Regions from separate parts of the Homo sapiens genome. Here all the other regions are reported to be linked to region 1. Evidence: microRNA targets listed by miRTarBase, many of them from high-throughput screens and not tested one by one. Region 1 holds a microRNA gene; each other region holds the end of a gene's coding sequence.
What was found. The annotated mature microRNA hsa-miR-181a-5p reads AACAUUCAACGCUGUCGGUGAGU and lies in region 1 at 2,152-2,174, opposite strand. An mRNA with a match to its seed (bases 2 to 7 or 8) in the 3' UTR can be bound and repressed. Matches are read on the target gene's strand: a 7mer-m8 pairs with bases 2 to 8, a 7mer-A1 pairs with bases 2 to 7 and ends in A, and an 8mer does both.

Region 2: the mRNA of CCNQ is a reported target of hsa-miR-181a-5p. Seed matches in the 3' UTR shown: 7mer-m8 at 2,261-2,267.
Region 3: the mRNA of STAG1 is a reported target of hsa-miR-181a-5p. Seed matches in the 3' UTR shown: 7mer-m8 at 2,641-2,647.

The regions. Positions count from the first base shown.
Region 1 is chr9:124,691,394-124,694,653 of GRCh38, reverse strand. It overlaps MIR181A2 (microRNA 181a-2), which reads right to left and starts at 2,212; the gene lies at 2,103-2,212. The region is part of intron 2 of NR6A1 (nuclear receptor subfamily 6 group A member 1); the gene reads left to right. All of the region lies in intron 1 of MIR181A2HG (MIR181A2 host gene), which reads right to left. MIR181B2 (microRNA 181b-2) reads right to left here and starts at 944; the gene lies at 856-944.
Region 2 is chrX:153,585,714-153,588,973 of GRCh38, forward strand. It overlaps CCNQ (cyclin Q), which reads right to left. Exons shown (of 5, transcript NM_152274.5): 5 at 2,212-2,741. The coding sequence ends at 2,652. Among named protein-coding and RNA genes, the nearest start is that of CCNQ, 12 kb to the right of the region's middle.
Region 3 is chr3:136,335,421-136,338,680 of GRCh38, forward strand. STAG1 (STAG1 cohesin complex component) reads right to left here. Exons shown (of 34, transcript NM_005862.3): 33 at 2,950-3,030; 34 at 816-2,857. The coding sequence ends at 2,834. Among named protein-coding and RNA genes, the nearest start is that of PCCB, 87 kb to the left of the region's middle.

The sequences.
Region 1 (3,260 bases):
TTTAACATGGGATTTAGTGGCTTATCTCATGTTACAGGATTTAGAGAGTTGATACTACATTTAAATTTTTTGTTAAGAAAAATGTACATCTTCTATCTCACTTAGGTGTTTTTCCTGTTTGAGGGACATGGTTTGCAAAGGTTAGAATGAATGAGCCTCATAGTTTTTGTCAAAAGAGAATATTGATGTACATCTGAATAATAACCAGAACATTCATATTAAGTCATACTATATAGCCATTTAAAAGAATGACGAGTACATAAAAGACTGTTGTGGAAGTCTATGATATATAGCTGAATAACAAAATAGATTATAGAACAATAGGTAAAAATGAGCTTATTTTTGTCTAAGCCACTCTCCCCCCAAAACATGCAAAATTACAGCTATTTATCTGTGTATGTATGGATAAAGGTCTTCAAGGATATAAAATAAATTCTAGTTATGATATTTATTATCTTAATAAGTTTATTATAATTATACATGTTTTCCTCCGAGGAAATGGATTGCAGATGATGATTGAAGGGATTTTCAATTTTTACTTTGTATATTTTTGTATTTGAATTTCTAAATAATAAGCATATGATTCTGTTTAGAAATTCTGAATGTACTGATTTTTAAAATGTGATGTGATATCCAGATATGTATTTAATTCTTCCTATAAAATATCATTTCCTTAAATCTAGACTATTGAAAAAGGAGAAAAGTACTAGGAATTTAGAGAACTTACTCCATGTTAGAACCAAGGAGAACAAGAAAAGCTTTAGCTAGTGTTTTGGAAATAGTAGCAGCTCCCACTCACAGCAGTAGCTGCTGCACTCAGGCGACTCTCTGCACATGCTTTTGCTTCCTTTGGGTTGTTTGGTCCGCAGTTTGCATTCATTGATCAGTGAGTTGATTCAGACTCAAACCCACCGACAGCAATGAATGTTGAGTGCAGCCATCAGTGTTTTCAGTTGGTGGGGTTGCCTTTGCCCTCCCTGGCTGACTCCTGGCTCTTCTTTTCCATCTCAGTTCTTTGAAGTCTGTGTGTCTGGCTTCTCCCTTAGTAACCAGCCATCTGCATGATTGAGGGCCCACACAGGTGTCCATAACATTGACATTGGAGCTGGGAGGTTATTGCAGATGAGGAAGCTGTGGTTCAGAGAAGGAAGGAGTGCTTGGAGAACCTCACAGGTAGCACTGCGCCACACAGGCAGTGCTTGCATATTAGTACCTGTAAACCACAGCTGAGGGACCTGCTTTTCCTCTTTGTTTTGAACTGAGAAGTATGAGTGCTTTTTTGAGGTAAATTAGCAGATTATGTTGGAGTTTAATAATAACAGCTTACATATATTGAGCATTTGCTGTGGGCTAGTAATGGTACAAAGCACCTTATATATTATCTCATTGAGTCTCAAAACTCCATGATAGGTACTCTTAGCCTCTGTTTTATATGTGAGAAAACTGAGACACTTGCTTAGGGGGTCAAATAACTAGTTAAGGGCTTGAGCCAAGATTCATCCCAGATCTGACTGACTCCAGGGCTAAGTTTTTGCTTGAATTTAGCAAACATTTAAATAAGCATATGTGGGGATATGTGGGCACTAGTAAGGCAATAGCTCATGCTCTAACTGGGATATCAAAAATTAACCATATTAACTATAATTCAAAGTGAAATGTGATAAGAACTGTCACAATTGGATAATTTTGTGCTATTTTTGCTTATTAAATCCTCCCCTTGCCCCTAATTAAAAATTTTGAGAGGATGTGGGAGAAATGGGAGTAATTATTTAACTGGATTTTATTCCAAAACAAAATACGTATTTTTAATAAATTTTTACTTGCTACGTCCTGTTTCTCACCAGAATGGTGCATATCTAGGAGACATGTAGGTACATTAGATATCATCATGGACTGCTCCTTACCTTGTTGAAATGAAACACTTTTTTTGTAAAAACAAACAAATAATAATAAAACACACAACAGAAAGCAAGGAACAGTGAGCAGTAGGAATAAAATTCACTGGACCACATTTGGGGGATTGCAGGACCATTTCTGGTGAACTCATGTGACATGTGAAGGTACAGCTTGCTCTTTTGCTTCAGGAAATGTAGTGTCGTCTGTAAGGACCCCAAGGTACAGTCAACGGTCAGTGGTTTTTTCAAATCCCAAACTCACCGACAGCGTTGAATGTTCCTTGGAGTCCTCTGAAGGCTGGCCTGATAGCCCTTCTTCATTCTCCCATCCACATCCCAAGAACCAGTGAGCAGTGAGACCACCGCTGATGGATGCTCTTACATTCCTCTCTGGGTTTCAAGTCGAGAGTATTTAAATTATAAAATCAATTTGTGTGCAGCAGAGAACTAATGAACTGTGGGATAGACTGTGCAGTAATTTGTACAAGCAGACTCAAATGAATGTCTGAGAAAATGTCTTTGAATGGTATTATTTTGTGATTCTAAAAATGTAAAATACCTGATTTTGCAGTAGTATTTTAATTGTTAACAAGGGTAAGAGATTAACATATATTGGGGATCTGCTATATACTAGGATTTGTATATTTTATCTCATTAAATTCTCAACAACCCACATTTTCCTGATGAAAAAACTTGAAGTGATTTGCCTAAAGTTACATTGCCAGGAGCCAAGGTTATAAGCCAGAATTTGAATACTGGACTTCATGTTTCCAGTGCTCACTCATCATACTGCTTCTGTTGTCTACTACAGAACTTACTGTTGATATCTAGGAGTAGACCCATCACTGCAGAGCCAAAGTCAAACATGTAAATTTCTTCTACTTGTTTGCCTATAATAATAGCAGGTAGGTCTATAGGTGAGGTCATAGGGGAAGATGAAAAACCTCGACCTCCATGATTGATGATCTCCTTTGCTGAGATCCTGCATTACTAAGTTACCACAGAGGTGTTAGTGATAGTCCACAAGCTATTTTCCATATTGAAAAAGCAAAAAATAAACCAAAAACCCACCACCTAATGTAAAGCTTGCATTTCTTCTTAGTTGAGAACACAGAGTGTAACTAAAATGTCAGATGTCATTTGTTCTGGCTGAAACGATACCAGTACATTATAGGACATAGTGGTTATTTTTGATTCTGTTGAATGTCTGTGATGAAAAATTTGAAAAATGAATTAATAATATGAATCTTCAGAATATGTGATTTACAATGGGACAGATCTAGGAATACTTAATAGGAAAAGGGCTTACAGAACTGCCTGCTGAATTGAAGTTAATCTCTAAATGGGGATAGTTATTACTATTTG
Region 2 (3,260 bases), not on the chromosome of region 1:
GCAAGGCTTCATCTCTACCAAACATAAAAATAAAAAATTAGCCAGGCACGGTGGTGCACACCTGTAGTCCAAGCTACTCAGAAGGCTGAGGTGGGAGGATCGAATGAGCCCAGGAGGCCAAGGCTGTGGTGAGCCATGATTGCAAAAGAGAGAAAAGAAAAGAGAAAAGAGAAAAGAAGTGGGGAGGGAGGGAGGGAGGGAGGGAAGGAGAAAAGAAGAAAGGGAGGGAGGGAGGGAAGGAAGGAAGGGGAAAAGAAAAAAGAAAAGAAAAAGGGGTGGATGAATTAGCCCAAGATACACGGGTGATAGAACCAGCCTTCACAGCCAAGTGGTCTAACTCCAGAACCCACTCTTCGTTTCTTGGAATGTTAAAATGTATTTGAATGCTAAAATGTGTCTTGTCTTGTCTTTCCTGTGTCTTGTCTTTTGTCTTGTCTTGTCTTTCCTGTGTCTTGTCTTTTGTCTTGTCTTGTCTCGAACTGCTGAGCTCAAGCCATCCTCCTGCCTCGGCCTCCCAAAGTGCTGGGAATACAGGCATAAGCCACAGTGCCTGGCCTAATTTTTTTTTTTTTAATAGACAAGAGGTCTTCATATGTTGCCCAAGCTGGTCTTGAACTCTTGGGCTCAAATGATCCTCCCACTTCCGCTTCCCAAAGAGCTGGGATGACAGGCCTGAGCCACCATCCCCTGCCTATTTTTAAAATGTTTGAGGAATATCCATACTGTTTTCCATAGTGGCTATAGTATATCCCACCAGTAGTGTGTGAATGTTCCCTTTTCTCCACATCCTCACCAAAGCTTGTTTTCTTTTGTTTGATAGTAGCCATTCTAATTGAAGTGAGGTGATATCCTCGATGTGGTTTTGATTTGCATTTCCCTGATTCCTGACGTTGAGCAATTTTTTCACATACCTGTTGGCGACTTGTACGTCTTCTTTGGAGAAATGTCTGTTTAGGTCTATTGCCCATTTTTAAATTAGGTTGTTATTCTGTTGTCTAAATTCCTTATATATTCTGGATATTAACCCCTTGTCAGACGTAGAGTTTGTGAATATTTTCTTTTTTTAAAAAAAAAAAAAAGATAAGAGTCTCCGTCTGTCGCCCAGGCTGGAGTATGGTGGCGCAATCTCGGCTCACTGCAACCTCCGCCTCCCAGGTTCAAGCGATTCTCCTGCCTCAGCCTCCCAAGTAGCTGAGATTACAGGCATCCACCACCATGTCCGGCTAATTTTTGTATTTTTAGTAAAGACGGGGTTTTGCCATGTTGGCCAGGCTGGTCTACAAACTCCTGAACTCAGATGATCCACCCACTTCGGCCTCCCAAAGTGCTGGGATTACAGGTGTGAGCTACCACACCTGGCCATGAGGGCCATTTTTACCATATTAATTCTTCTGAGCCCTGGCCACCTTCTCTTCCTTCCTCTTTTCACTACCACGCTACACATTCTCATTCTGTTTCCCATCTCTCCCTCCACATAAGCAAGGAGTTTCACCTGGTTGCCAGAGCGCAGGCAAGGACTGGGCACACAGTAGCTGCTCAATAAATGTGGTTCTTTGACTGATTAGTCTTAAAAGGCTTACAACAGGTAAAGCAGGAGCCCACATTTAGGAGAAGTTAATCATCAAAACCCACAGGGGAGTTCTACGAAATGAAGGGCAGGTCAGCCAGGGCAAGCCTGCCCACCAGGGAAGCCTGTGACATCTGCTCAGATACTTCATTCTGAAGACACTGAACATAGTCGCTCTGTAAAGTCAAGCAAGACTCTGCCCTGACCTGCATCACCCCTGCCCCCACACCTGCAGGAGCCGGAGCCCACCCTCCTGTGTAAACCTACCAGTCCCCCGGCCCTACGCCACGTGCTGAACGTACGTCTAGCCTGAAAGGGGACCTAGAGAGCGCCTCCTGGACTGGTCTATTTCTTACCCACTGGCTTTTGAGCAAGGAGTCAGAGGGGTGCTGGGGGCCACAGCTCTGAGTTTCTCCAGCCTCCCCATCCAGACTGGCTACCTTGACATTTAAAAACGCATTACTTTTAGTTACGTTCGATCAGGACTCACTTTTCTGAATGCAAGTGATCCTCCCTAACCCCAGGCCTGCCGCCTGATGGCTGGGACACACTCTACCTGAGAGCACTCTGAGGGAACCAGTCTCTGAGGGCCCCTCACACCCCCATGTGCAGCATGCGCTGCAGAGCAAAGCCAAGGGTCCCTATTGACTTGTATCACCTTTTATTACACAAAATAGATTTCAGCCACGTTGCACATTCATTCTCCCTACAAATCTGGCTTTTAAGAAATCCGTAGGGATTCAGTCTCATCGATTTCATGACTTTCCTTTCATTGATGTCATGCCTGTATTGTAGTCAAAGTCCTCTCAAAGGACAAACGCAGATGTGGCTGCCTTGGGTCAGCTGCACACAGTACACTCCCGGCCTGCCCGCTGGAGGCGCGGCTCCCACCATCACCTGCACCGCGACTTCTAGGGACTGGCAAAGCGGCAGCATGCCATTGCCTTCTCCAGCCCTTCTCCAGCAGCACAACCAGTCCTCCCAGCTGGTCCTGTGGGGACCAGCCGTCATGGCGACGTGGTGACAATGTCCCCAGGCAGCCGACCATCCTGGGCTTCTCTTTGGGCAGGCCTGGGCCAGGACCTTAGGGGATCTCTGTGTCCATGGTATAAATCTGAATGAGATCAGACACAATATTATCAATGATTGGCTTGGTAAGGTCGTCATTAAACACCTAGAAAGAAGAAGGAAAACAGGTTCCAGTTAGACTCCCTCTATGTTAAACAAGGCACCTGTCACTAAGCAGAGAATCACATTTCATGGGCAGGGGAGGGGCACAGGGACTTGGCTATGTAGGAAGACAGTAGCTCTCCTGCAAAGCCAGTTTAATTCCAGCCCGTTGAGGCCAAACACTTTACAAGGCCGAGAACATTCCAGATGGAACAGGCCTTGGTGATCTTCTGACTCAGAGAGGAGGGGACCTGTCCAACGTCATACAGGGAATTGGTAACACAGCTGGGTCCAGAGCACAGGCTCCTGCCTCCTGCCCGGGACTCCCTCAGGTCCAGGGTCTCTGCGGACACTGGCAAGAGGAGAGGGTGGCAGTCCCTGTGCAGCCACAGGCAGGCTAAGTACCCGGACCCCACGCCTACCCTAACCCAGCCCCTGGGGAGCATGTGGACCCACTCCACAGTCCGGACCGCCACGTGCAGGAGCACTCGCAAGACGGCGAAGGACATCCTCGGGGCCCATG
Region 3 (3,260 bases), not on the chromosome of region 1:
ATATTAGGCCATTTAAGGAACTCACCCCCTATTGCCAGACCCATGAAGTGTGTAGGGTATGACTTCTTAAAGAAAGAGTGAGGAGGTCTAATGCCAAGAGAAACTTTTTAAGACAGTCTGGCTCTGTTACCTAGATTGGAGTGCAGTAGTGGTGCAATCTTGGCTCACTGCAACAACCTCCACCTTGTGGGCTCAAGCCATCCTCCTACCTTAGCCTCACGAGTAGCTGGTGTGCGCCATCATACGCAGCTAATTTTTGTATTTTTTGTAGAGGAGTTTTACCATGCTACCCAGGCTGGTCTCGAACTCTTGAGCTCAAGTGATCCACTCACCTTGGCCTTCCAAAGTGCTGGGATTACAGGCGTGAGCCACCATGCCTGGCTGAAAACTTCATTTCTGTAGCTGCATTGACTCTATGTGGTCTTCAAAAGGGCACTGCCAGGGTGCAATTATGCATGTAAGCCCAGAGTCTCAAGCCGTGAGGACCCATGCTACAGGCCAGTGGATGGGTGTTCCCTGAATGCCTCATGCAAAACTCAGTTTGCAAGAGACTCCCTCTTAAACCACAGATGACTTGGCCTACACACACTCCAGAGAAATCTAAGGAATGAAAGAAAGTGAGCTATTCCTAAATTCTGCTTTCTTAAAAAAAATTAAAAAGCCAAAACAACAAAACCACCAACTCACTAATAAGGTTAACTTGCTGCCATTTAACAGATTATCAGAAATTGCAAACTCTCTCAAGAGCCACAGGACAGAAAATCATCTCTTTAAAGCCATACCTGGTAGAAACAATAGGATGACTACCACAAGCCTGATTTTGAATAGTTTATTAAAGGAAAGGTGAAGCATCAGTTTCAAATTGTACAAAAGGAAAAAAAACCTCATATTGCAAATGTACAATTTACAGAATTACTAGCAAAACCAATCAAGGAGACACCGAAAATACAAAAATTTGATTGACTTCAAACTGAACTGGAAACCCATTGGAGTAGATATTTAGCCTTTTTGTGTGGCATGGTAGTCTACAATTCTGTCAGCATCTGTTTTCCATACAAGACTGTCACGCAAAGGATCAATTTGTGCATGTGCCAGGGCACCTCATGGCTTGCTCCCTGGCCAAAACCACAGGCAGGCAGGGCTGGGGTGGACAGTCCAGTCATTCCTGCACCTTCACTTCCAGTGAAGCCCACAATTCTGGGAGAAAGTGAGGCCCCAGCTCCCCTAACTGGAGCCCAAGAATTGCTGAATTAGCAGAGAAGATATTTTTGGTGACCAGGTTTTTTTCAGAACTGTACAAATGTTGAGAAAAATGTTTTGTGTCTTTACTAAAAGGATGAATAAAATCATCCATCATCATCTTGCTTTCCCGCACAAAAGATGATCACTGGGTGTGCAGAATTTTAAAAAATGTTTTTCGTATTTGATAAAAAGGGAAAGCCTCATGATTCTGTTGCAGCTACTTTAAAAACCAGCCCAGAAACAGCTGTGGATGAATTGGTTTGGAAATTCTGAGGCTTACTTTAGAAATCAGAAAGGAAGAGAGAGACTAAGTGGGGTTTTTAAAACAATAGCAGCAAGTCATAAAAGTCTAGGCAGAATGTAACTCTAAACCATTGTAGACTGTCCTGAAGATTCATAATTTCTTTCCCCAAAAGAATTATTCTTAATATGCACATTTAACACTGAAATGTAGCTGTAATTCAAGGTAAGCTTAGGAACTTCACCCTCTAAGCACAGACTTCTATGCAGCACATACTTCTATAATCAGTAAACTTAATTCACAAAATTAGCGCATAAGGGTATTAAGTGCATGGGAAGTAAACACAGTTATGTTACACTTAAAATTACTTTTGAATGATTGATAAAGGATTTCTTCATGATTGATTATCTTAAGAAAATGGAAGTCTGTGTAACTTGAATTTGGCAGGGCATGAAATAAGTGGTAAAAACAGCAAACTGATAACTTGAGAATCATTTTCGTTTTACTGAGAATACTTTATTTGCTGGTAGAAGTTGCTAAAAATGCACAGAACAAATACCAATAGAAAATGCACTGTATTTGAATCTCCCTAGTCTATATAAAATGAACGGTGTACAGCATCTGTTGGAAAAATGGCTGCATGGACATTTCTTATTTTATGCCCACTTATAAATAAAAATAAACCTTTTATTCAAGAGTATATAAAATCTGGGAATTCATATCCATATCCACAGAGGGTGTGTGGTTTTTGGCAGAGATGTACTATGTCAGAATTTCATCTTAGCTTGTCAATGTTCTGCTCCTTCATTATTTGTGTTCCACAAAGGTCAACCAAATCCAGTGAACTCCAAAACACTCTTCGCAATTAGGATGAGCTGCTTACTCATAGGTTTAATAAAAATGGTTAGCTTTTAAAACATAAAAAGGCAAAATGTTAAAACGGTTTTTAAATTGTACAACAGGAAAATAAAGTTAAAAATATGTTTTTTTTTACTCAATGTTGAGTTTTCATAAAACAGGTGTATAACAGTGTTTATCTTGACAGCTGTTTTAAAAATTTAAAATTTCTTCCTCCCTCCAGAAAAACACACACATCTGTATTGGGATAAGTCCAATAGTAGGACACAAATGATTTTCAGGTCAGTCTTTCTGAGTTGACATTCACCAACATTCCCTTGGGTAATTTACATGCTCCTCTTCTGTCACTGCAAAAAGGGATTGACCTTAATCATTTGATTAAAAAACAAATCAGATCACATCAAAAGTGTTTTTCCCCATACAAGCTATCACAGTATATAGGCCTCTAGCTCTAAATAATAGAGTTCCAGATTTGTAAATTTTCTTCAGACTTCAGAACATAGGCATTCCAAATCCCTAGAAAAATGATGAGAAACATAATTATTAATTTCATGCATAAACAGGACCCAGGAACCATAAATAAAAAGCAGTAATAATTTGACATTTACTGAATCATCTTCTATGATAGCTGCAGAGTCAAAGAAGTCTGGCCTTAGCTCAGCTCTCTCTCGCCGATTTCTTGATGGAGGCTGGAAAGAGAAATCGGTTTCTTAATTTTTTTCTGAGATCATTAAGACAATGAATTGTGATAATCAGCTAATATTTCTGACAGTATCATAAATATATGGAACTGCTAAGAGTCAATTTTGAAAGGAAGAAGAGAATCTGGCTTTTATATGAAATAGATTTTTTAAAAACAAACAGTACTTTTGGCTTTTAATTATGTTGGCAAAAACAAGGCACAAAACTTTCAAACTAT